Linked DNA regions of Homo sapiens: region 2 is reported to be linked to region 1. Evidence: microRNA targets listed by miRTarBase, many of them from high-throughput screens and not tested one by one. Region 1 holds a microRNA gene; the other region holds the end of a gene's coding sequence.
What was found. The annotated mature microRNA hsa-miR-6072 reads UCCUCAUCACACUGCACCUUAG and lies in region 1 at 5,482-5,503, shown strand. An mRNA with a match to its seed (bases 2 to 7 or 8) in the 3' UTR can be bound and repressed. Matches are read on the target gene's strand: a 7mer-m8 pairs with bases 2 to 8, a 7mer-A1 pairs with bases 2 to 7 and ends in A, and an 8mer does both.

Region 1 (10,074 bases):
CCCCTTGGGACTGGAGGAGATGCTCCCATTGAAAAGGGTTCATCGATTATGGCTGTCAATGCGATTGATCCACTGTCACCCACCTCTGGCTTTAACTATTCAGTTTCTGTGTTGTAATCATATGCTTCCAAGACCTTCAAAAGTCCCATTTAATTACCATATCATGATGAAGCTTCAAGATCCTACCATCACCATCAGCCACCTCTCTGGGGGACAGAACAAGCTGATCTTAGCAGTGGGTGATCTCTGTGTTGTAGTCACCTTGAACGTACAATGGTGAGAGAGAATAACCACAATAAGGACCTCCACAGAAAGAAACACTTGCAAGGATGGAGCACAGAAGCACAGAGCAGTCACTGGTCTTTAGTAATTCTGAAATCCACAGGGCAAATGCTGGCACCTCCAGGAGAGAGCATTGCACTTTGATTTGGGCCTCATTGACCCCCAGAGTCATTCCTCAGTCCACTGGTCTGCATGGCTCCTGGGTTCACACTCTGAGATGTCCTTTCTTCTCCATCACCTTATGTGGCATCTGGATTTCTGAAGAAAGGAGCCATTTCAGTGGCTGGGTAGATTTCCCAGTCTGCCCCTACCCCAAGATAATCTGGAAGCCTGCAGATCTCTTTGTGTTTGGGGTAATTTCAGTGCCTTTTAGTCCATGCTGTTGTCCCTAGAGCCTGTGCAACTCCCATGAAAATCCTGCAGACTTCTTTGTATTTGATTCCATTTCAATCCACCTGAAAAAAGACAAACTCATAATTAATTTCTAGACAGACTTCTCTCTCTAGTCTTATCTGTGCTCCTTTGGCTATGTCAGGCTTCTGGGGACTTCTGTTTGAAGATTTTTTGTGTGTAGCTGAAAGTGTCTATTAGGCACAGCCTCAAACCTGACAGAGCCCCTCACCAAGGGTCATGCTGCCACACCACTGATTTTGTCCGTGCCCCCAGGCTATAGATTATTTTGAGAGTCTTTTGCTGGCTGGAAAGAGATGAAAGATCAGAAATGGCTTTATTTTCCATTCCCACAAGACCAGGCTCTCTCTATCCCTTCTAAATTCTTGTACAGACTGGGCAATGTTTTATTTCACTCATCTTTTTTACTTTTGAAAGCTTCCAATAAACAGCCGAGATCAGGTAGCTGGCACTTTCAATATTTTGGCTGGAGATCCCGTTGGTCACATCTGAAAGTTCATCAGGTATTTTGCAGGTGAGAGAATTGTGATCATTTCTCAGTCACCTCACGTGGTTCACATTTTTTTGGCCTCCAGGGACAATTTTCTCAGTATTTTTCCTCAACAATTTTCAATGATTTGTGCACAATTTTCTCACATCCCCATCTCCAGTCCAAAGGCCAGTGCTACACAGAAAAGGGTCTTGTTATGTCAGATCTAGGTTCTTTAGACCCAACCTCTGTATCCCTTTACTAAGGTCATGAGCCACAAGCCCTCACTAGCATAAACAATAAACATCCATGTTGTCTCACAAGTGTAGGAGTTGGGCTTTGTGACTCTGTCCCTCTGGGCTGGGAACAGCTGATATTAAAGGTCATGTTTTACTTGTGAGCTTCAAAGAGCTTGAGACTTTGGACTCTGACTTCAGGTAATCAATCACCAAGAAATGCCACAGTGTCCCAGGTGAGCCGTGTCCACCTCCTCCCCCTCCTGCCTTTGCAACAAAGCAGCTTTGACTTTGCAGTCAGGGTGTTCAGGACTCCAGATGTTCCCTCTAACTATAGACCTCTCTCTGTTGTGTTTTCGTTGTTCACAAACATTCAATAGCCTTTGGTGAAACAGTACGTTTTCTGAAGCAGTAAGCACATGGTAGAAATGAGTGAGTGATTAGGTACTAGCGGTAGTTAATTGTTAATGAATGAGGTATGCTGACTGACAGCTGGTGGAAATGGATGATCACCAGATGAATTTGGGGACCTGGAGTAACTCTGATTATGGACTGAACTGTGAACTACAAAAATTCATCTTGAAGTCTTAACCCCTGTACTTCATAATGGGCCTGTATTTGGAGGTAGGGTCTTTATTTAAAAAAATAATTATGTTAAAATGAGGTCATATGGGTGGGCCCTAATCCAATAGGACTTGTATTCTTGCAATAAAATGAGATTAGGACACAGACACACACAGAGGAAAGACCTCATGAAGACACAGAAGGAAGGGGGCCATGCGTAAGCCATGGAGAGAGGCCTCAGGAGGAACCAACTGTGCCCGAACCTCGACCCTGGACGTCCAGCCTCCAGAGCTGTGAGGACACACATTTCTGTTGTTGAAGGCTTATGGTAGGCTCATACAGCAACCCTAGAAAACTAATACACCCATGATGCTTAAGAAACATGAAGACAGAATATATAGCTTGTCAGAGAAAATTTATGGCTAAAGTATTAAGCATATTTACATATTAAAATATGTAAATAAGTTACATGTGTGAACAGTTTACATGTTAAAATAAAATAGTATGGGCATGGTGGCTCATGCATGTAATCCCAGCACTTTGGGAGGCCAAGGCAGGAGGACTGCTCGAGGCCAGGAGTTTCAGACCAGCCTGGGCAACACAGCAAGACCCTGTCTGTACTAAATAAATAAATAAATAATAGACTTTGTAATCTCAGCTGTGTTGTTGATTTTATAGAAATATCTGATGCTGATTAAATTACACAGTTTAACTATGTATAGTATAATGGCTTCAATTGGACTTCAATAATATAGAAATAAAATGCATTTTATTTTGTATCGAAAACTAGTGATATAAAAACATATTTATAAATTTTACATTTTTGCCTTTGAAACACACATTATGAAATAATCACATCCTTATATAATATGCTTTCTTATGTTATAAATCTTCCTATTCCTTTATTTTCAAATTTTTCACTCATATCATTTTTAGATTAAGTCTTGTTCACAACGTGTTCTATATTTTTCTTTTAATCATTTCTTTTGTGTTTTCATTATTCTTTCCCTTGCTCTGAGTTGTAAAATTTCTCCATAAATGTTTTCTACTTTTTCAGTGTTTCTACTGGCTGTTTTCATTTATGAGAAAAACATAATTAAACATGATTCAAGAAGTATGTAATAATTCAGACCAGCATCCTAACCCATCACGAGACTTTCAACAAAATTTTAGCTTTTATTCTCCTATACCCATGACTCTATTAAACTTATGCAGACTTTTAGCTCTAAGTCATTGCTAATTTGTAATAAAATATTTGTTACAAAATGTAGGACTACATTCTTAATACTTTCTTTAGATTTAAATTATCATTTTCAATCTTTTCTAAATCTGGCACCAGAAGATACTCTTATCATTCGCATGGACATTCTTTATCCTGTCACTTTAGCCCCACTCTTCCACTTATATTCCCGATTCAGATTTTAATTTGACAGATTTCAGACGCTTATTTCACAAGTATCTACTCTTCTGAAAGTGTTTCTTATTCCACACTTGTTTGAAAATGTCCTTTGTCCTGTGAAAACTATGAAGAACACTTTAACCTATTCTAAAATTCTAAGAGTAGAATTCTGCAATCTCATAGTGGTACAAAAATGAGTTTACTCCCCGTAGCAATAACTATGTTCAATAATAATAAACACAAAATGTATATAGGACCTTATGTTTACAAGTCATTGAACTAAAATCTTTACACTGATTCAACCTTCACAAGACTGTGGGGTTGATGTTGTTGTTATCAAAGTTAGTGTGTCTGATGCTAATGTGGTCATTTCCTGGCAGACAATTTATTTTCTCTATTTGGAAACTTATTGAATTCTTCATTTTTTAACTTAAGATCTTTACTAGCACGTGTGTATCTTTTTACTTTTTGAATCTCCCCTAGACTCAGTGATCCCTTTCGAGATGGAAAACTGAGTGTATTTTTATTTCAGGAGAATGTTCTTTTGTGACGTCTTTGATCACTCCCTCTTTATTATTCCTTTCTCATCTGGACTTCCTATGGAGAGTTGACAAGTGCTGGTTCTATTTTCTTTCATGGCTCGTAGGTTTTCTCTCATAATATTCATTTTATTAAAAAATTTTCTCTATGTCATAGACTAGTTTCCCAGCACAAACTCCTGAGTCACCGCATAAAGTCTCACTAGGGTCCTGTGTGAGTCACAGTATTCAGAGACTTGATATAGTTACTGTCGTCTTTGTTTCCAGTTATTCATGTTTCAGAGTTCTCCATTTTTTCAAAGTAGCTTCTTATAGTTTTAACGGTACCAATCCTTTTTATGCAATGGAAAATATGCATTCAAGGTTCTTCTTTATGGTTCATGTCAGTGGAGGAGACAAAATCGTTTGATCTCTCTCTCTCTAGATCTTCATTGACTTAAACATCCACTGGCTTTTCCCATGTGCCGGGACTCACAACAGAGACAGAGCAGCTGAGTCTGTGCCATGAGCAGGTGCGGGCCCATTCAACTGTGTGTGTCCCTCACTTGAGGGGCACTTGGGCAGAGGTTGGCCTGCGATCATAACCAGGAAGAGAGGATTCTTCTTTGGGTTGGATGAGTAATAAACGAACCTGTAGGCCTGCTCTTTTGATGAAATAGACGGCCACTATGTTCACCATTTTCTCCTTGATATGGCAAGTGACTGAAGTCAGCTCTCTCTAGGAAATACAGTGGGGGCACCTGCGGGGCTGGCTATGCAGTGACTGCGGTACAGAAGACAGTGGCCCAGGCTGCAAAGCAAGCCGAGTCCCGGGAAGATCAGGGTGTCCCTGCTGCTCAGACTGTTGCGGGTGTCGTTTTCATTCCGGGACAATGGGGGCAGTGGAGACTGTGCTATGCGTCTCACTGCTCTTGACAACACCATCTCCAAAGCTCCGGGCACCTGGGAAGGTGGAAGTCCTATGTCATTGCTGGGGTGCCCTGGGGCCTGGCACATGGAGCTGGACATCCTAGAAGTCTGTCCCTCATACTGGATGCCGAGGGTTTTCCCTGCACAATGTTTTCCGCAGACTGTGTTCTCTCTCATTAGTGCAAGGAGCCCTGAGTGGAGGGTTTTGGGGGATATTTGGTGGAGGACAGAAGCAATAAAGAAGGTGCAAAAGGAACACTCATTTCTTCCTCTTCACAATTTTTCCAATGATTCATCTTCTCCATTTGAACATCCTTGACAAAGCCGGAAGCACGGATTGTCATGAGCCAAGAACGTTTTCACTGATCATTGTTTCTTCAGGCCGGGTCATAGACACACAAGCCCCCTCCAAAGTAGCCCTTAGCTGTTCCTGCTTCCCGAGTTCTAAACTCGAACTCCTGGGGTTGCCTTCAAGGCCCGAGGCCAGGTGCCCTTGTCAGCCCGTTCAGAGTCCTGAGTCCTGGACCCACTAGGGAGATGCACAGGACTGGGCACAATTTCGGCAGGGCACAGAGGAAAACGTTCCCCTTGGGTAATTTCAAGGAAGAAGTTCAGCGGCAGGAATTGGGGGTGCAGGGTGGGGGCTGGTGCAGGGATGGGCTTTGCTACTGCTCCTCATCACACTGCACCTTAGCTGCTGCCTGGAAGTCACTTACTAACGAGAGGATGGTTCCATTCAGATATGCTTGCTGCTGCTGAAATGAACATATTTCATCTTTGGTTTGCATTACATAGAGTAGTTCTTAAATTATAGCACTAAACAAGGTGCTTCAACTTATTTCCATGAGTATTGAAATAGACGCTAAACATGGCAACTCATTGTGCATAATGTACGAACCTATTTTTATTTAATGTGGCAGTTCGTTAATACCACAGCTCCTGTAACTGCTCAGCACACAACCTAGAATTTCTCAAGCTTCAAGAACAATGGCGAGAATGGTACCAAGGGTCTGTTTGCCCTCCTTTAAAACAGGATTCTCTATGTTTTATCCTGATCAACTTTCATACTTTCTCTGCAGAATTATATAGTGCAAGACATTTGGAGATATCAGAAACCTAGGAGAAAATGTGCTTGAAACATAGATAGTAATATGATCAAGCTAGAAATTAGGAGTCGTGGTCTGCTGTATGTTGAGAAGCATGAGGCAAGACGCATGAAGCTGGCAGAAACAGCATGATTTCAAAATGTATGCTAAATACTAATTTGTGTCATGGATATTTTATCTCTTCTTTCTCTCCCTCCCGTTAATCTTTTCTCACAGCATGCTCAGGCAGAAGAAGATAATAATTAAGCCCATCTGCATTGCCTTTCACTGTCTTCAGGAATTTATGAAATGAGACAGAAGAATAGGCATCCAAAAAGCTCCATTCTGAACGTGGTATGATATTTACATCTTGTGAGTTTAAATAAAATTCACACTGCTGACCCTACTGCCCCAGTGCAGAGCTGTTAGTTTGCGATATCACACTCAGGTTGCACTGTGTCCAGGTGGCAGGATGGAGCTGGATGGGCGGTTCTGCTCAATGGAGCTGGATGGGCAATTCTGCTCAATGGAGCTGGATGGGCAATTCTGCTCAATGGAGCTGGATGGGCGATTCTGCTCAATGGAGCTGGATGGGCGATTCTGCTCAATGGAGCTGGATGGGCGATTCTGCTCAGTTGCAGGAATGTAACTCCCAGAGCTGGTGGTGCCCACTTTTATACAACAGAAAGAGGTACAGTTTCTATCTATCTCAGGGTATTGCCAGAGAGGCTGTGAAGATAAGAGGTTAGGAACTGTGAAAGTTTGGGTATCTCCATGGTATGTATGATCATTATGATTTGAATAATTCTAACCCTCTGAAATTAAAGACACCCAATACTAGGCATGGTGGCTGACGCCTATAATCCCAGAACTTTGAGAAGTCAACCAGGAAGGATTACTTAAGGCCAAGAGGTTGAGACCAGCCTGGGCAACATAGCAGGACCCTGTCTCTGCAAAACAAAACAAACAAACAAAAAATCATACACTTTTTAAAAATCACATTTTATGCAAGCTGCATATATCTTCCTTGATAAGTTATTTCTGTATAACAATTCAGTGTCAGGAAGGGGAATATCACACTCTGGGGACTGTTGTGGGGTGGAGGGAGGGGGGAGGGATAGCAATGGGAGATATACCTAATGCTAGATGATGAGTTAGTGGGTGCAGCACACCAGCATGGCACATGTATACATATGTAACTAACCTGCACAATGTGCACATGTACCCTAAAACTTAAAGTATATTAAAAAAAGACAAAAAAAAAAAACAATTCAGTGTCTACAAATGGAAATTTGCTTAGTGACATAAGTCTTACTAAATTGTCTTTGTCAGTGAAATAAAGGGAAAATATTAGGCGATGGACACACTGACCAAGGTTAGGCTTAGCTTTGAAATGTGAGCAAGGACAACATAAACAGAAAACATTCATTAAGATTCAGGATATAGGATACCTGATACAGGAAACCCAAGTTCAGAATACAGGATTGGATTGTTGTTGCCATGATAAGTTTTGTTTGTTTGTTTGTTTGTTTGTTTGTTTTCACAGTCCCTACTGGCCTTAGGCAGTAAACACACAACAGGTCAAAAACAACAATTTACCATATGTATTTAATTCTATTGTTTCCCAAATTTGACTGGAATAAACATAAAGAACACCAAAGGGATGCAATGATTGTGGTTTTAAGAGTAGGAATATGGGCTCTGGTAGATGAGCTATTTTGGCAAATTTGTATAAGATAGAAAATAGATAAGGTTTATCTAATAGATACATCACAGAAGAAAGGACTCGTCTCAAACACAAATTCAAAGTGAGAGGAAGATATCCTGGCAAAGCTCCCAATTTATTGTTTGGCATTTAGAGAGGGCAGATGTGGGTATGGAGTCAAGGTGGTTAATTAATTAATTAATTAATGGCTATTTGCAGATGACCTGTAAGGTCCTCATGCAATTTCTTTCCTCAAGTTCAAGCCCAAGTTCCTGCACAAAGACAAATGATATCCCAAATCTTCCAGTTGATCTGCTGTGCTGGGCGATGTTTCCAGGGGGGAATGCAGCTGAGTGTGGCACCTGAGGGAGTCTCAACCAATTCAACAGCCCACTGTGCAGCCACGTTGAACTGAAGCTTAGCTATTCACTTCCCAGCCCATCTGCAAAGCGCTTCCCCAACACTGCCCTATAGATTATAAACGTCTGATTTACCAGACTGTGGGTAGAAAAGGAAAATAAATACATCACCATTTTATATTAACCAAAAAAATGTGATTTTGACGTACAAATACACATCAATGAACATACATGTGAAGCACTATGAAAGAAAGTCATGAATAGGAACAATCACAACAGAAGCTGCTGGCCATCAGTACAGACAGTGGAGAACTGAAGAGCACAAAATATACAAAATTAGCACATTTAATTTTCATTAAACACCTTATAGAAAACTTGAGGGAAGCCAATTACAATACAAGAATAGGCTGTTCTAATAAAGGAACTATGCAGAGATTTTAAAAATTAGTCTTGTCATTTGAAGTATAATCATAAATTAGCCAGGCGTGGTGGCACACGCTTGTAGTCCCAGCTAATCAGGAGGCTGAAGCAGTAGAATCGCTTGAACCTGGGGGGCGGAGGTTGCAGTGAGCCAAGATCACGACACTGCACTCCAGCCTGGGTGACAGAGCGAAGCTCCATCTCAAAAAAACAAAACAAAACAAGTCATTTGAAATATAATTATTACAATGTAAAAAAACCAATAGGATATTTATAGTACAAATCTAAAAACACTCAGATAATTAGAATACAACAACAAATCTAGAAAACAGGTGAGCAAGACAATTCATTCAGGCAAAGCCAATGATTCAAGACTGGTAATGTACACTTTATAGGAGGGGCAGAAAGAAAGAGTGGAGACCATGCCACGGAGGATAAACTTTTATTTCAAATAAAAGCTGCACTGTTACAAGCTGAAGAAGGATGACTTTTCATGCAGAAGGGTACACGGAGCAACACAACCAGAATGGATGAGCTACCATGGAACGCAGTGATAGAAGGATGCTCTCAAGAGCTGCCCAGGAAGAAATGAAGAGCGGGTTCCCTTCAAAAGCCTCAGAAGTAGACCAGCCTTGACCACTTTCGTTCTTAAAGGCAATGGAGTGTCATATCAATTTCAAAGGAAGGTACTTTTTAAGATCAAATCCCATATCAAACCAAATTATTGCTCAATAATAAACACAGTTTCAGACAAAGAAAAAGTGTCTTTCTAACCATCTTTCAAGAAAAAATAAATTCAGGGTGGTCCTTGGCAGAACTGAAACTCAATCTAATCAGGATGAAGATGTGAGGTTTGGGGCAGGGGAGGGGAACATTCTTCCGGTGAGTGTGCCAACAATACTCAAACGCCAGTTACAAGTGCAGGTGAAAACCACTTCTATAAAATAAAAACATGGCACAAAAGTGAGAGATTAAACGTGGGCAATTGGATCCAATAAAAGAGTGTAATGAACACAAATATTTTTAACTTTGACAAGAAATTTTCTTTCATTTTAGTGTCACGAGAATTTGTTACGTATGTGACAAATAACATTCAGATAACTATAATACTGTTAATATTGCTTATTCAATTTTCGTGTTTAGAATCATCATACACATACATTGAATGGTTGGAACTTGCCTGTATGCCGCCATTTTGGGTAACAAAAGCAATGATGTGATTAAGTCTAACACGAAGCATAGAGAGGGAAATTAAAAAGTTGATTATGAAAGAGCATTTATGATTAAAGAGGTAACAAAGATAAAACTAAAAATAAGAAAATAACAAAAACATTTGGGAAAGAGAAAGTAAGACAGAGAAAAAATGATACATTGATCTTCTAGTCACAGCTGACTAAACAATCACGGTTGTGTAACAATGATGAAAACAATCACCATTTAAGGGATTGCTCCCGGGGGTGAGGAAATCAGCCTGAGGACTGAAAGGGAAAGACACAGCCCACGGCTTTCAATTTTCATTTAGAATCCAATTTTATTTAAAGAAGTAATTATGGCCAGGTGCAGCGGCTCATATCTGTAATCCCAGGGCTTTGGGAGGCTGAGGTGGGCGCATCAAGAGGTCAGGAGATCGAGACCATCCTGGCTAACATGGAGAAACCCCGTCTCTACTAAAAATACAAAAAAATTAGCCGGGCAT
Region 2 (10,074 bases), not on the chromosome of region 1:
TGTGAAATTAAAGTATTTGACTCTTTGCTTGAAATAAGTAGGTTAAAAAGATTTGGGTGGCCGGGCGCAGTGGCTCACGCCTGTAATCCCAGCACTTTGGGAGGCTGAGGCAAGTAGATCACTTGAGGTCAGGAGTTCGAGACCAGCCTGACCAATATGGGGAAACCTCGTCTCTACTAAAAATACAAAAATTAGCCGGGCGTGGTGGTGCATGCCTGTAATACCAGCTACTTGGAGGCTGAGGCAGGAGAATCACTTGAAGCCAGGAGGCAGAGGTTACAGTGAGCTGAGATCACGCCACTGCACTCCAGCCTGGGCAACAGAGCGCGACTCTGTCTAACAACAAAAAAGATTTGGGAAAACACTTTATTAATGAAGAGTTCCTGACAAAGTGATTTTTTTGGGGAGAATTTTTATAATTGCATTTGAATATTAGGGTGCTCCTTTTTCTCTCATTCTAAATTCACCAGAGACTTAAGCACAGAGAATTTTTATTACATGCCTGTTAATTAATGTGTATAATCAGATTTTAACTATATTTAGTGAATATTAAGATTCAGGTACAAATCAAGCCCTTTATAATTAAACATACACATTCAGAACATTTTTAAAATATTAAAACATTAAACTGCTCTTCTCACCCACTCCAAGTCAAATAGCATTTTTTCAGTCAGGTGTCTGGGAGCTCGATGCAAGATAACAAAATCTGGTCTCTGCCTCAGGGAACATGAAATCTGTTTGGGGAAGCCAGAGCAAAAATAAAGGTTTTAATAGCAAGCTCTCACTAACTGCCCCTGGAAATCCACCCCACATCCTCCAGGAAGCCTTTCTCTACCCCCAGTGCCCTCAGGAGCTTCTCCAAGGCAGGCCCTTCCCAGAGCGCAGTGTGCTCCCCAGCTCACAGAAGATGCTCCCTACACGCTGCAGGAAAGTCCAGTGCCTGCAGCACAGGCTTCAGCAGCAGACTCGGGTTCTAGTCTCAGTCTGCTGATTCCTAGTTGTGGAACCTGAGCAGGCGAAGTTACTAAACCTCTCTGTGCGTCAGCCTCCCAGGCTCGTTGCTTCAGGCCGCAGTTAGGCTGTGTGAACAGGAGAGTGGGGATGGGAACTAGGTATCTTAAAGCGGGGCAGAGTTTGGATGAGCGGGCCACCCTTCGTATAGTTAGGAGGAAGATGACGGGAGGCATGGAAGCTGGGATAGCCATCCTGAGTCAGTGCTAATTCTGACACTTCAGAACATCGAGTCAGTCTGACCTGCGAGTGAGCTTTCATTGACCACTTAGAAACTATTAGCACCTTGGACAAACTACTTTCTTTCAGACCTGGTTGCTTCATGTCTGCGATGGGAAAACTGATACTTAACTTGCAGATAGTGGTGAATCAAAAGTAGTATATGTGAAGTACTCACACACTGCGGAGCATTCAGCCATCGTCCCATCCTACTTCTACCTTTTACATATTGTAATATGAAAGCTAAACCATTTCTCGATGTGAGTCAGTTTTAATCGGCTACATAGTGAGTGGCATTCGATTTTAAAAATGTCAACTTGGGATCTGTCACCATGCTACTTACCATTTGTATGTCACACTGTTTGAATGTCGGACCTGGTTTGTTTTTCTCCAGATGGTATGTTACTTACGGTCATGAACTGATTTGGAAGAACAGGGAGCCGCTAGTGAAAATCTGGCATGAAATAAGGACTAATGGCCCCAAAAAAGGAGGTGGCTCTAAGTAAAACTGGGATTGGACAGTAGTGGTGCATCTGGTCCTTGCCGCCTGAGAGCCCCAGGAGACATCGGCTAGAGTGACCATGGCTATGCTCCCGTCTGGAAGATGCCAGCATCTGGCCTCCCACTGTTTTCAGCTGTGTCCCCCAGTCCGTGTCTTTTTAGAATGTGAATGATGATAAAGTTGTGAAATAAAGGTTTCTATCTAGTTTGTAAGCAGATGTGTGTGTTCTCTCTTTAAGGGGCCGACACGGCTCTGGCATTTTGCTTTGGTTGTTGCATTGACAGGACCTGGGGAGAGTGCACCCTGAAAGGCCTGATCAGAACATGAAGGCGCTGGTTGCCTGTCTTTGGACCCTCCAGTGCCTCTGCTTAGCCTTCACTCTTCCTTGCCTCCCCCTCCCCTGGGTTGGCTGCACATAAAAGTCGAGAGTATCCCCTCTCCAGCACAATCTGAAATAACAGCTGCAGTATTTTCTCAATTTTCAGGAAAGGTAGTGTTTTCTGGCAGTGAGTGGCATATACAAAAAGCTATTTTCAGGTTTTGCTTTCTAGGTTCAATTTGTAGATAAATTAAGAGGTAGAAAGAAGTGATTTGGGTAAATTCAGACTTGAATCTGAGCCGAATTTTATCTTCTGTTTGAAAGTGTTCTAATTGAAGCGTCTCACTGAAATAGCAGATAGTGGCTGTCGTCGTCACAGCCTCACTGTTGTGGAATTCATGTTACCCTCGTGACTGAGAATGACATCTAGGAAATGCAGTTTGAGAGTATGTTCTTCTTGAAGTCATTTACAGGAGAATTTTTAGTCTTTTGATGGCTTCAAAATGTTATACCAAGTCTTGCAGCTTTGTCCTGGGAGGATCGAAGGCCCTGATTTCAGCCTCCTGTGGCCGATCGGACTCAGGTTGTGTGCCGTGGGGGATGGGAATGGCGGCTTTGGAAAAGGAGTGGGAGTGGTGCCCACCTCACCAGGCAAGTGAGAACTGCATGGCAGCACGCGCCCAGCACATAGAAATTGTCCAGTATTTGGCAGTCCTTCATATCCTTCTTCCATCAGGCTGGACTTGTTTCTACTATGATTTACAGTTATTCTTCCCAGGCACAGGATTCTGTTCTAAACTCGTATCACTTCTAGGGGAGAGAGTTATCTTAGCCATCATTTTGCCAGCGAGGAAACGGCACACGTGGTGTAGGGGCACTGCCCAAGGTCACAATGCTTTGCTCTGACATCTGCTAACAACTCTGCAACACAGATGAGGCAAGATGCGTTTTCCAGAGATGGGATAGGAGGCTGAGTTCATAGGGACATTCCCTCTAGAGCCCAACATTAATTCACATCGTGCTTTGGGCAGACCAGGCAAAGAGGCAATGAAGACATCTCTGTGTCCCTGCTTTGTGACTGGGAAAAAGTTAGAAGTCCCTGTAGCATCTCCTGGTCCCTAAAACCCCTCAATGCTGGAGCCTCTGTGCATGGCCTGGGGAGGCCAGAACCTGGCTGTGGCCGGAGAAGCCTTGCTGTCCACAGCTCCCTCCTGATTGCCCACGAGGGTGCTTCACTTTCTCCTCTTGGCTTCTCTGGGGACCCGCGATCACTGCCTTCAAGGCCATGCACTCCCTGGCCCGTGGGCCTCTTGGGCTGTGCCGCCTCCACTGGCATCTGAAGTGTGGGGTACCTAGGAACATGCCGTGGCTGCCGTCTCCCTCATTCCATACACTTCTTGAGTGGGTGCACTTGCTGAAGCCTCAGTTATCTGTGAGGATTCTGAGCTCCAGACCCACAGAATCTCTCTGTACTCTTAGTAAATGTGTCTACTGCAACACACGCATGGTTCCAGGCTCTGGGACCACCCCCCCGCCCTGCACAGGCCCCTCAAATAGCACTCGGCTTAAGGAGTGACACGAGCAATCGGTGAAGTCTGAAACCCGGAGCCATTCGAGATCTCCCTCTCTCGCCTCTTATTTCTAGAATTCAGCCCCTCAGCCTTCCCAGTGCCTGTGACTCCGTGGTGGTCCTCACTTCTTAGTCCCTGGACTGTTGAGCCTGTTCTTCCAGCTGGTCTCCAAAGCAACCCTGTGCTTCTCCATATGCCTGCCAGAGTGCTAAAAACATGTCTGTCATTCCTTTGTTGTCACCTGTGAAAAACTTTTATTTATTTGAGACAGGGTCTCTCTCTCTCTCTCTCGTCCAGGCTGGAGTTCAGTGGTGCAATCATAGCTCACTGTAGCCTTGAAGTCCTGGGCTCAAGCCTCAGCCTCCAAGTAGCTGGCACTGCAGGCACACACTACCACGCCTGGCTAATTTTTAAAAGTTTTTTGTAGAGACAGGGTCTCACTGTGTTGCCCAGGCAGTTCTCAAACTCCTGGGCTCAAGCAGTCCTCTTGCCTCAGCCTCCCAAAGTGCTGGGATTCCACGCATGAGCCATCTGCACCCGGCCATATGAAAAGCTAAAATTCCTTAGTGTGGCCACCAAGACCCTCCATGGTCTGCTACCTCAGCTGAACCCTCCTCCCCCGTGACCTACATTCCCACCTGGCCCAACCACCCTCCCTCACAACAGGTGGCGAGTCCAGCTTTCCCCAGCCTGCCTCCCTCTCATGCTGACCTGGCCTTGTCAGTTCAATTACACTTCCTTCCGTCCCTCACTACCACACTAAACCTCCTGAAGGCACCCAGAATTATTCCTAGCACATAGCAACTGCTCTTTGACTGTTGTTTGATCAATGAAGTAATAAAAAGAGAGCTGCTCTCTTTTCCTGCGAGATGGAGAATTTTAGTCCCAAGCGCCATCTGCCAGGCTGGCTAACCCAGGGCCGTGGCGGACAGTCCACAAAGAGTTCACTCTGACCCGGCCCCTGTGTGTCATTTTCCAGGATCTCCCTCTACACCTGGCGCCTCGCCTGCTGCCTGCTGGGACATGGCCTGGCCTGCTCAGCTGACCTGCTGCCACTTCTAGGCAGCCGTCATGTCACTTTGCTACAACTTCAAGCTAAGACAGGCAATGTTTTGGGAGATGAATCTGTTTTCTGACTGGCCAGGGATGTGCTGCAGTCCCCTCCCAGGCGCAGACTGGATACCTTCCAAGTACAACCTTGAAATGGAGCTCTGGGTAATTAATGCTGTCTCAGTAGTGTTATTAGTAATTGGTCTGCAGTGTATACCGAGAGCATGTGTCAAATATTCAGAAAAGCGTTTGTGGGTGGTCAGGGAGTTGTTTGAGACGGTGTCCTGCATTGAACAGACCTGCCTTTACGCTGGAGGATCCCTCAACAGCTCTGCCTGAAAACAGCCATGCATGCACAGGAGGAAAGGAACTTGATAGCCTTGTGGCCAGTTCTGTGGCCGCTTTATCAAACTAAAGCTTTTGCAAATGGCCATGCTTTAAAATTAGGAATTTCAGAACCCAGGGAAAGGTCGATTGGTGGCTAATGCCAATTCTAATGAAAAGTGGATTGGTTGTCACAAATGTAGACTAGCATCCTAAAGGCAAATAGGCGGCGACTCACAGGCTGACTGAAACACGTGTTCTCCGGGAAGCAGGGCCCCGAGTCTTCTCTGACACCCTCATTGCTGCACCTGCCCCTGTGCCCGCGGAGTCCATGCGGTGCAGCCTGGCACAAATGCAGCAGTCGCTGGGCGTCCCGAGGCCACATGGAGAACCTCCCGGCTGGCGGACTGCTCCCAGCTGCGACCATCGGGCCCTTGGCCTCTGCGAAGCCGGGGCCATTTATAAGATGACACTGAGGGAACTTTGGATTCAATTCTGAGGCATTCTTCGAGATGGACACTTGTAAATGAATGCAGGCGGTTTCCGGTGCCCCCTGGCGACGGTGCAGCCTTTCCCCCATCCGCGCTCCCTCCAGCTCCAGCCGTGCGCAGCCGGCCCCGGCCAAGTGGGGCTGCCGCCGAGTGCGCCCCCTCCCGGGACGCCCACCCTCGTGCCGGGGGGCGGTGCTGCGGCGGCGCGGGGCGGGCCGCGGGGGCGGGGACGCTGGGCGCAGGAGGCGCGGCCGGGAGCGCCGCGCGCCGGGAGCGGGGCGGCGGGCGCCGGGGCTGGCATGGCGTGGCCCTGTATCAGCCGCCTGTGCTGCCTGGCGCGGCGCTGGAACCAGCTGGACCGCTCCGACGTGGCGGTGCCGCTCACTCTGCACGGCTACTCGGACCTCGACAGCGAGGAGCCGGGCACGGGCGGCGCCGCCTCGCGCAGGGGCCAGCCTCCCGCGGGCGCCCGGGATTCCGGCCGGGACGTGCCGCTCACTCAGTACCAGCGGGACTTCGGCTTGTGGACCACGCCCGCCGGGCCCAAGGATCCGCCGCCGGGGCGCGGACCGGGGGCGGGCGGCCGCAGGGGCAAATCCTCCGCGCAGTCCTCCGCGCCACCTGCGCCCGGCGCCCGCGGGGTCTACGTGCTGCCCATCGGCGACGCGGACGCGGCTGCAGCAGTGACCACGTCGTACAGGTATGGGCTGGGTAGGGACCGCAACGAGTCCCCACCCTGTGGTGGGAGGACGCGGAGGCCCGGAGCCAGAGGGATGGGGTGGGCGGCAGAGCGGAGGCGCCTGGAGCCCGGATCCCACGCGACCTCGGAGCTGCCGGCGGCCTCAGAGGTCACCCCCGTTTGGTCCGTGGGCACTGCAGGCGGCGCCTTCGCTGCTCCATGCCCGGACTCAGTGCTCGAGCACCCCCGTGCCGGGAGCGCACCGCTGCCCTCGCAGCCGCCCTCCTGGGGGCAGCCGTCAGAATGGCCTGCCTTCAGCCGAGTTGGAACCGGCCTCCCTTTAACTCCCACCGCCGGGCCTAGCCGTGCGAGGGGTGCGCGCAGGCCATGTCCCCCAGCTCTCTCCGGTCACTGCCTAGTGTGCGGGCGTTGGTGGTGAGGACCGAGCGCAGGGTCCCGTGTGGGTGAGCCCTTCAGAGTCCCACTGTGACAGGGGCTTTCAGGGAGAACGGGTCCGCGGGCCCTCCCCACCTCCCAGCCCAGCTCTGCTCCTGGACAGCCGAGGGCTTTCTCCCTTTTTTCCTCTTACCACAAAAGTAATTCATACTGTAGAAAAATGGGAAAGTACAGAAATTACAACAAAATACGTATCTCCTTGATCCCTCCCCAGACGAGTTCTTTCTACTCCGTAATGTGCATTTGGTGCATATGCACTGATATATTTTTACGTGGTTAGATTCTTACTGTACACTTTTTTCACCAGTTGTAGAAGTCTGTCCGTGTTACTACATGTTCTGCAACATGAATTTTAATAAACGTGCAGTATTTTATCCTATGGATATGCCTTTATATCTTCAAGTTTTATTTATCTACTTCCTTACCATTGACTATTTAGGGTGTTTCTAATGTGGGACTATTAAAAGCACTACTTTTCCTTTGATGCAGCTATTTCACTACTAGGAATTTTCCCTACAGGTATCCTACAAGGTAGGGTGGGAGCTCAGGAGCGTAAGATAGGTGGAGACATTGTACAACAAACCCCTTGTCCTGCTGATGTAGGGAACTGGTTAATTATAGCACAGCCATGAAATGGGATACTGAAACCCAGCGGATCTTAAATATACGCATACCAAAAAAGCAAGGTGCCCAGCAGCACGTAGGCTATTTGTGTTTTAAAAAGGGGTATTAATATACACACATATGCTCAAATAAGCACAGGATGCCCTGATGGATGTCTGAGGAGATGGTACCGTTAGGGAGAGGAACTTGATAGGGACTGCCAGGGGTGGAAGGCTTTTCACTCTGCTCTTTTGAACGATTGCTTTTTTTGCCTTTGTAACATGTCCATGTATTGCCTATCTTTTTAACTTTTTTTTTTGGAGACGGAGTCTCGCTCTGTCACCCAGGCTGGAGTGCAGTGGTGCAATCTCGGCTCACTGCAATGTCTGCCTCCCTGGTTCCAGCAATTCTCCTGCCTCAGCCTCCCGAGTAGCTGGGATTACAGGCTTGTGCCACCATGCCCAGTTAATTTTTATTTTTATTTTTATTTTTGATTTTTTTCTTTTTTGAGACAGAGTCTCGCTCTGTCGCTCAGGCTGGAGAGCAGTGGCGCCATCTTGGCTCACTGTAACCTCCGCCTCCTAGGTTCAAGCAATTCTTCTGCCTCAGCTTCCTGAGTAGCTGGGATTATAGGTGTGTGCCATCACGCCCAGCTAATTTTTTGTATTTTTAGTAGAGATGGGGTTTCACCATGTTGGTCAGGCAGGTCTTGAACTCCTGACCTCATGATCCGCCTGCCTCGGCCTCCCAAAGTGCTGGGATTACAGGCATGAGCCACCATGCCCGGATGAGGGACTCCTTCTAAAAGCTAAGCCAGCCAGGCATGGTGGCTCACACCTGTAATCCCAGCACTTTGGGAAGCTTAGGTGGGAGGATCACTTGAGCCCAGGAGTTCAAGACCAGCCTGGGCAACATAGTGAGACCCTGCCTCTACAAAAAATAGAAAATTAGCTGGGCGTGGTGGTGCCTGCCTGTGATTCCAGCTACTTGGGAGGCTGAGGTGGGAGGATCCCTCAAGCCTGCGAGGTCGAGGCTGCAGTGAGCAGTGTTTGTGCCACTGCACTCCACCTAGGCAACAGAGCAAGACCTTGCTTCAAATAAATAAAAGCTAAGCCTCTGCTAGAACATCCCTAGTAAAGAGGAGCCCAGCGCCATGCAAGTCAGCTCGCTCCATGGGCAGACTGTTGTAACTGACAGAAAGCGCTTCCTTCCCGGAGCTGAAGCTGTCTCCCTGCAAGCTCCACCCCTTGCCCTGCTCTGGTGCCTAGAACTTCAGCCGCTGGAATGCGCTGCACGCTCAGGACCCCTGGCCTTCCAGACTCTCCGCTATTCAGGCCCCTCCAGCTGGCTAGTCTAGGGCCTGAGCGCTGCGGCTCAGTGTTGCCCACTCCAGCTTTGGCGGCTCAGCTTGAGGACGTGTCAGTGAATGCAAGACCCACCCTGCAACCACTGTCCCCCAGCGAGTTCCTTACAAAGTGCCGACCTATGAGGGAGCCTCCTCCTGGGGACATGGAATGTTCTTTGTGTCTTGATAATGGTGGTGGTACCCAAGTGGTTACATTTGTCAAAAGTCATCCAGCTGTATGTTTTTAATGGATGAATTGTATGGTTTGGAAATAATGCCTTGATACAGTTGGGTTTTTGGGGGGTTTTTTTGTTGTTGTTTGTTTTGTTGTTGTTGCTGCTGTTGCCCAGGCTGGAGTGCAGGGACATGATCTCAGTTCACTGCAGCCTCAACCTCCCAGGCTCAAGTGATTTTCTCACCTCAGCCTCCCGAGTAGCTGAGACCACAGGTGGGCACTACATGTGGGGTTTTGTGTGTGTGTGTGTGTGTGTGTGTGTGTGTGTGTGTGTGTGTGTGTGTGTGTTTTAGAGATGGGGTTTATGTTGCCCAGGCTGGTCTCAAATTCCTGGGCTCAAGCGATCCTCCTGCCTCAGCCTCCCAAAGTGCTGGAATTAAAGGCATCAGCCACTGTGCCCAGCTTGGTTTTTAAAACTAATAAAATTGGGGGGATAAGTTCATACTTTTTGGCTCTTTAATTCCACAGTTAGGAATTTATCCCAAAGAAATGATGATATGAACAAAGATTTAGCTGTAAGGATGCTTATCACAGAAGTTACTTTTTTTTTATTTTAAAGTTAAAAAGAGGCCGGTCGCAGTGGCTCACACCTGTAATCCCAGCATTTTGGGAGGCCGAGATGGACGGATCTCCTGAGGTCAGTTCAAGACCATCCTGGCCAACATGGTGAAACCCCGTCTCTACTAAAAATATAAAAATTAGGCCGGGCGTGGTGGCTCACCCCTATAACCCCAGCACTTTGGGAGGATGAGATGGGCAGATCCCAAGTTCGAGACCAGCCTGGCCAACATAGTGAAACCCCATCTCTACTAAAAATTAGCTGGGCGTGATGGCACGCACCTGTAATCCCAGCTACTCGGGAGGCTGAAGCAGGAGAATCCATTGAACCCAGGAGGTGGAGGACGCAGTGAGCCGAGATAGAGCCACTGCACTCCTGCCTGGGCAATAGAGCGAGACTCCATCTCAAAAAAAAAAAAAAAAAAAAAAGCAATCCCTCATCTGTGTGGAACATGTGGTGAGTGAATGTCCTGCCGGGCCCTCCCAGCTCTGGTGACGGTGAAGGTACTAGCTGTCGCCTTCTCTGCTTTAACGCACACCAGGCTCAGCACTCCCTGAGGTTAGCCCCCTGCAGCCTTCGTGTAGTGCTTGCCGTCCCCATTCTACAGACAAGGAAACTGAGTGGCTGGCACAGCTCTGAATGGCAGAGAAGGGAGTGGAACCCGTGTGACTTGCCCCAGAGATCAAATTTGTAGCCCCCATGGGTTTTCA

Region 2: the mRNA of PARL is a reported target of hsa-miR-6072. The part of its 3' UTR that is shown has no 7-base or 8-base seed match.

Annotation. Positions count from the first base shown.
Region 1 is chr10:2,071,460-2,081,533 of GRCh38, reverse strand. It overlaps MIR6072 (microRNA 6072), which reads left to right and starts at 5,445; the gene lies at 5,445-5,515.
Region 2 is chr3:183,821,260-183,831,333 of GRCh38, reverse strand. It overlaps PARL (presenilin associated rhomboid like), which reads left to right. Exons shown (of 10, transcript NM_018622.7): 10 at 1,625-2,063. The coding sequence ends at 1,736. MAP6D1 (MAP6 domain containing 1) reads left to right here and starts at 5,757. Exons shown (of 3, transcript NM_024871.4): 1 at 5,757-6,187. The coding sequence starts at 5,787. RefSeq lists silencers at 5,550-5,899, 5,960-6,029, 6,050-6,179.